Homo sapiens: one gene and its partner. The protein of the gene in region 2 interacts with the protein of the main gene of each other region in a biochemical or structural test. Each region holds a gene or a part of one and is shown on either strand. Other genes may lie near its edges.

What was found. The genes of interacting proteins can lie anywhere in the genome.
Region 1: of the proteins of TTBK1 (region 2) and MAPT, one has a biochemical effect on the other in vitro, tested with the Homo sapiens proteins (one study listed by BioGRID).

The regions. Positions count from the first base shown.
Region 1 is NC_000017.11:45,900,968-45,904,623, reverse strand, and holds part of MAPT (microtubule-associated protein tau), read right to left. Parts: intron 1-3,656. UniProt on the Homo sapiens protein: Promotes microtubule assembly and stability, and might be involved in the establishment and maintenance of neuronal polarity.
Region 2 is NC_000006.12:43,241,897-43,245,652, reverse strand, and holds the start of TTBK1 (tau-tubulin kinase 1), read right to left. Parts: upstream 2,173-3,756; 5' UTR 1,945-2,172; intron 1-1,944. UniProt on the Homo sapiens protein: Serine/threonine kinase which is able to phosphorylate TAU on serine, threonine and tyrosine residues. Induces aggregation of TAU.

The DNA of each region.
Region 1 (3,656 bases), on a different chromosome or scaffold from region 2:
AACTCCTGGGCTCAAGCGATCCTCCTGCTTCGGCCTCCCAAGTAGCTAGGGCTACAGACACATGCCATCATGCCCAGCTAATTTTTACAGTTTCCTTTTGTAGAGACAGGATCTTGTTTTGTTGCCCAGGCTAGTCTCAGACTCCTGGCTTCAAGTGATCCTCCCACAGTGCTGGGATTACAAGTGTGAGCCACCGAGCCTGGCCTCATTTATATATATATATGTGTATATATATATAATATATATAAAATATATTTAATATATATAATATATATAATATATATATAATATATAATATATATTATATATGTTTTTATATATATTATATATTATACATATTATATATATAAAAATATATATAATATATAATATATAATATATATTATAATATATAATATATATAATATATATAATATATTAGATATATAATATATACAATATATTATATATATAAATATATATAATATATAACATATATAATATATACATATATAATATATAATATATAATATATATAAATATATATAATATATAAATATATAATATATAAATATATAATATATAATATATAATATATATAAATATATAATATATAAATATATAATATATAATATATATAATATATAATATATATAAATATATAATATATAATATATAATATATAATATATAATATATATTATATATAAATATATAATATATATAAATATATAATATATAAATATATATAATATATAAATATATAAATATATAATATATAATATATATAATATATAATATATAAAATATATAATATATAATATATTTATATATTATATTATATAAATATATATATTATATTTTAATATATATTATATATATAAAAAAAATATATATAAAACCAAAGAGATTCCTTTTTTTTTTTTTTTTTGAGAAGAAGTCTAGCTCTGTCGCCCAGGCTAGAGTGCAGTGGTGCGATCTCGGCTCACTGCAACCTCCACCTCCCGGGTTCACGCCATTCCCCTGCCTCAGCCTCTCGAGTAGCTGGGACTACAGGCGCCCGCCACCACGCCCGGCTAATTTTTTGTATTTTTAGTAGAGACGGGGTTTCACAAAGCCAGGATGGTCTCAATCTCCTAACCTCATGATCTGCCCGCCTCGGCCTCCCAAAGTGCTGGGATTACAGGCGTGAGCCACCGCGCCCAGACTGCCTGATGTTGCCCTGATTAATTACCCAAGAAGTCTCTTTTTGGGGGACAGGCCATGGGAGGGGGATGAGGCAAGACAATAGTTTGGTGCCACTGTTCAATTAAGAACAACTGGAAACAGGTACCACTGAAATGACCTGCAAATCAATGGCAGAACTGGATCCGATCCAGGACAACTCTGTTGACACATGATTTAGAACGCTGGCTCCAATTCAGGAGGAGGAGCTGTCCTTTACGCTGGGGGAGGAGCACCGTCCCACGGTTCCATGAATTTGTCCTTCCCAGCACTTCGTTCTTGGCATTCTGTGGCGTCTGTAGAGCACATGACAAGCAATTACAGAGCCAGGGGTCTTCTAATATCCTTGCTATCCCAGGGAGGAGGACACAAGCATGAAAGTGCATCCCTGGACTTTTTGTGGTGAAACTGCAGACTTAGATCCCAAGATAACATCACCAGCCTTCTCAGTAAAACAGAAAACTGGGCCATAGGCTGGAAGGAAAACCAGCAGCTGGGACTAGAGATAATTATGTCCCTCTTCTCTTTGATGCCTGGATTTAGCAGTAGGGTGGACGGGGCCAAAGGAGAGGAATGAATGAAACATTATTATCAATTGCTTCAGATTTAATTCTCACTTGCTGATTTAAAACTGTTTTTAGTGTTGGACATTGATCTAAGACTCTTTCCTCAGGGGAGTTAATATAGCAAAGGGAATTTAAACTTATTTTCAGTCTGTTGAGGAGGATTTTACCCTCTTAAGTTGGGATTCTATGTGAATGACTTCAAAGTGCTGTGCTAGTCCTGGCAGACAGACAGAAGATGGGCGGGGAGAATGCCCACCTTTTACTAATTTATAAGTTTCCCCAGTAGGTGTTCTTCTGATACCCTGTAAGAATAAGACATGAAGGTCTGTAAACATGCAAGGCTGGGGTCCACACAGCCTGATCTGCAGTCAGGACTGCCTCTTATCACAGCCAAGCACTTACTAAAGGTCATCTGTGCCCATTCAAAATCTTGTATGTACACCAGACTTGCTATAATAATCACATATCCTAAATAAGGTGCAAGCTGGCCGGGCGCGGTGGCTCACACCTGTAATCCCAGCACTTTGGGAGGCCGAGGTGGGTGGATCACTTGGGTCAGAAGTTCGGGACCAGCCTGGCCAACATGGCGATACCCCATCCCTACAAAAATACAAAAATCAGCCGAGCATTATGGTGTGTACCTGTAGTCCCGGCTACGGCGGAGGCTGAGGCGGAATTGCTTGAACCCAGGAGGTGGAGGTCGCAGTGAGCCAAGATCGCGCCATTGCACTTAAGCCTGGGCGATAGAGCGAGACTCCGTCTCAAAAAAAGATTAAAAAATAAGGTGCAAGCTGATGGAGTAAAAGTGCTGAGGAATAAGCTCTTCAAATCATTCAATGATTTTAAGAAAATTTAGTTGAATGTTTTGGAAAGACTTCATAAAGGTGAGTAATATTTACTATCAAATGGGATGGTAAAGACCATGAAAAAAAAAAAAAAAAGTAAAATCCCTGAAGGATTCTGCATTCAGATGACTCCACAATGTAAACCCAAAATCCAAACTGAAATCGGAGGACCCAGACAGTGCATTATTAATGTGGCATAGGCAAAACAGACAAGAAATTTCAACTGGCTGATCCAGACACCAAGAGAAGACCTGAGCCCTGTGTCAAAAGATGGGTGAACAAATTCACATTTATATAGTTTCGGTTAAAGTAAAATCTTGGAAATCTATGTGTATCATTTAAATGATTTTCTGATATAATGACTTTTTAAAACTGATATATTGTTACTTAGTCTTGATTTAAGCGATAAGAAGGCTTCTTAGGCCGAATTTATTAATTCATAAATGACTATACTTATTGGATACATGGAATTCCTAAGATTCAGTACACCACAAGTTTGCTTTATTTAATCCTTTTCTACTCTACTCTCAACCAACCACCCTGAAATCTGTTTGCCAGTTTACCAATGTCAGCACTCTGTTGAATTACTTCATTTGTAAAATCTCTTCTTTACCTCCTTCGCCTTCCCTGACTGCCATTACTTTCTCGATCAGCCCTCACTTTTTATTCAACGAGTAAACTGGAAAGATCTCTGAACCCGATGTACTAAGCCAGGTCACCCTGCCCGGGATGGCTGGCGGGAAGGCAGGTCAGTTTGGGCTGGTGGAGAGCATGCAGTTTATTCCTGGCATGGAGTGGATTTCAGGAAGAAGATGAGGCAGGGACAGCAGATGACAAATCTCCGCTTGCCTGTGGCAAGAGTTCTGTGTGTACATTTAAACATGGGTGTGTGCAATTTTCAGAGGATCCACTTCTGCCCAGTTTGGTGCAGGGGAGCTGGGTAGTTGCCGACTTTTCCTATCTTGATCCCTACTCAGTGTAACAATTTATCTGTACAACTGATTCCATCACCAGGATCTTTAGACCCCTCTGGTCATTCAGCC
Region 2 (3,756 bases):
ACAGGCACATGTTACCGGAGAAATGCCCATGTGTGCGTGTGTGTATGTCTGTGTGTGTATCTGTGCATGTATCCTTCTGTGTGTGTATGTTTCTTTGTGTGTCTTTCTTTGTCTATCTTTTCTGTGTGTCTGTGTGCTTTTCTACATGTATCTCTGTATCTGTGTGTTCTTGTGTGTGTTTTGTGTCTGTGTGTGATATGCATGTGTGTAGGCAAGGGGCCAGAAGACATGACTTTCTGAGATTTCTGCCAACCCAGGACAGGATTTGGAACCAGGATATTTTCCTCTTCTCTTTCCCTCACACTTTTTAGAAGCACACTACCGTGCCCTCACAACGACCCTGGAGAGTCACAAATAGAGAAAGAGGGAAGTTACTTAGGCTGGGGTTTGGGGGTTGCGGGTCGGGGGAGGAAGGTGGCTAAAGAGATGTATAGATGGGGTAGAAACTACATAAACCCACCTTTCCTTGGGATGAAATAACTTCCCAGGGCTCTTGCATCTAGACATCCTGCCATAGGGGACAGGGTGGGACGTGGAGGTGTGGAAACCACCTTCTAATTCATGATGGGCCATGGTGGACATATGGAGAAGGGATCTTCATGGGGAGGGACGCTGCCACTCCTTTTCTCTTTCTTCAAGTGACTAAGCTGAGCTGTTTCCTCCAATCCTTACAACTTCAGAGCATCAGGACTTCCCTCTTTCTGCCAAAGTGGGATATGGGGCATCAGGAATTTGAAGGGCAGTGAGGGCAGTGGCAGGATGAAGGGAGAGGTAGGGATGGGGGTTCTAGAATAAAGGTGGAGGAGACAGGTTGAGGACAAGACTGAAGAAGCAATTGAACTGGTGGGAGGGGGCCTTCAGAAGCTAAACTGGGTGAACTCTGGTGGGCTTTCCAGTCCTGGGACAGTGGATCTGTTAGGTTGATAAGGAAAATTTGTGTCCTGCTCTCATTTTATAGATGAGCAAACCAAAAAGAAACAGATGAGGCAAGAGAAGGAAGAGTGGAGCCAGGAAGATAAATGAGGGTTACCTGCTTCTCCCTCTCCACCCTCCTTCTCTCTGTGTCTGAGGACTATGCTCAGCTGAGACTGGGTTGGATGATACAAACATGGGACACTTGGCTGCCCCGTTACTGCCGCCTCAGACCCCTATGTGCACATGGGCGCATGGTGAAGGCGAGGGCTTATGCAGGAGTTTGTATGAATATCTGTCAGAGAGTGCAGATAGGAGCATGTGGGGCCAGTGATGGTACACAGGGGTACGTGGAACTGGTGGGAGCTCATCATGGCCTGTGAATACAAGTGTTGATGTGTAACTCTGCAAGGTGTCAGCAGGTGTGTGTGAGAATCTGGGAGCCCAGGTAAGGAGAGGTGATGGAGACTAGCGAGGGGTGATGGGAACAGGTGAAAGAGGTGTGGAGGGAGGCAGAGGGGAATGGCAGGGATGAGGAGCGACAGGATCAGAGGAGAGGGGTGGGTAGGATAGAGACCCGTGAGAGATAATGATGACAGGCAAGGAAGAGATAGGACCATGGGAGGGATCTCTGGGCACAGTTGAGGGGGTGAGGAAGTAGGTAAGAAGGCAGGTGGGAGGCATGGAGGGACTGAGGACAGGGAGGGAGGTTACGGAGACAGCCGAATGATTCGTCAGGGATGACAGGAGAGCCAGGGGTGAAGCCATGGGGACAGGGGACGGAGGTGAGTGGGGAGGAGCAAAGTGCCCGGAGGACGGGTTGGGGAGGGAGGTCTGTGTGCTGGGGACAGGGAGCGGCTCCAGGCCTCGGCGCGGCCCAGGCGGTGTAGGCCAGCGTCCCAGCCCAGCGGGCGGCGACAGCAGCGCGGAGGGGAGCCCAAGAAGGCTGCGCTGGGAGGCGAGCCAGGCGGAGCCCCCTGAGCCCACGAAGGAGCCCCCGCCCCGACCCCGGCCCGCCCCGCCCCGCCTCACCTGCTCTGTGCCCGCTGCGGCTGCGGCTGCGGCGGCGGCGGAGGCAGCAGCTCGGGGCGGCGCATCCCCCGGGGCCGGGGCGGGGCGGGGGCGGCTCAGTGCGGCGTTGGGTGACCCGCTCCCTCCGGCGGCGGCGGCCTTCCGACCCGGATCATCCCGGCCCGGCCCGGCCCCGATCCTCCTTGGGCGACGGCGGCGGCAGCGGCAGAGCGGGGAGCTGCCCACAATGCACCGCGCCGCCAGCATCAGCACCAGCCCTGACATCACCGCCCGCCGCCCGCTCTGACATCACGGCTCCTCCTCTGACATCACGTTCCGACGGCCCCGCTCCGCTCTCCTCCAGCCCTGGGACTCTCTGGCTGTCCCGCTCCAGCTCTCAGGTTCTCCTTACAGCTCTCTGCCACCCGCTTGACTCCATCTCCCAGCACAGCCCCATCACTCCTTACCTGTTCCCATAAAACTCACCTGTCTCCATCACCCTTTATCTTCCCCACTCCTAGCATGTCTAAAATTCCTCATCTGACCCATCAGTCTCGCCTGATTCCCCACTCCATCCTCTACATGTTTATATCGCCTTCCTCTCAACTCATCCCCCTCTCCTGTACCCATCCTCCCATACGTCCCCATCACCCACCACTTCTGGGACCATCCCACACTCGCACCCACCACCCGTCATGTGCAATTCTCACCTCACCACCTATATGCTTTATCTTTTGGCTCAATCTGTGTCTCTCTTTCTTTGGCCCTTTCTTTCATTTGTGGACAAACTCTGCCATTGGTTTTTACTGCTTACCAAATAAGATGGACACTCTTTACTGTAACATCAAAACATCTTCCCAACATGGACCCATTAGGCCATTACTCCCCTTCTGACATGTTGGGTTACTCAACAACTCAACATTCCAACATTCCTTGAACAACACATTCTGCATGCCGCCTGTCTCTTTCAGTTTCTTCCTTCTTTTTTTTTTTTTTTTTTTTTGAAACAGGGTCTCACTCTGCTGCCCAGGCTGGAGTGCAGTGGCACAGTCTCAGTTTATTGCAACCTCTGCTTCCTGGACTTAAGCGAGTCTCCAGCCTCAGCCTCCCAAATATTTGAGACTACAGGCATGAGCCACTATCCCCGGCTAATTTTTGTATTTTTTGTAGAGACGGGGTTTCACCATGTTCCCCACGCTGGTCTTGAATTCCTGAGCTCAAAGCCATCTGCCCACCTTGGCCTCCCAAATTTCTGGGATTACAGGCATGAGCCATTGTGCCCAGCCAGTTCTTTCCTTCCTTAATGCCTTCAACAAATGCATCAGAGCAACTTGAATAATAATAACAACAACAATGGGCCAAGTGCAATGGCTCATGCCTATAATCCCAACACTTTGGGGGACCAAGGCAGCAGGATCGCTTGAGCCCGGGAGTTCAAGACCGGCCTGGGCAACATAGTGAGACCTCATCTGTACAAAAAATTTAAAAATTAGTTGGGTGTGGTGGTGTGCACCTGCAGTCCCAGCTACTCGGGAGGCTGAGGGGGGAGGATTTCTTGAGCCCAGGAGGTCAACACTGCAGTGAGCCGTGATTATGCTACTGCATGCCAGCCTGGATGACAGAGCGAGACTCTGTCTCAATAATAACAACAACAACAACAACAATTGCAGCAGTTATTTACTTCTGCCAGATACTACTCTAACTTTACATATGTTAATTGCTTTAATCCTGATGACAACCCTATGAAGTAAGAGTACTATTGTTATCCCTTGTTTTATAGATGAGGAAACTAAGATACAGACAGGTTAAGTAATATGCATTGGGTTACACAGC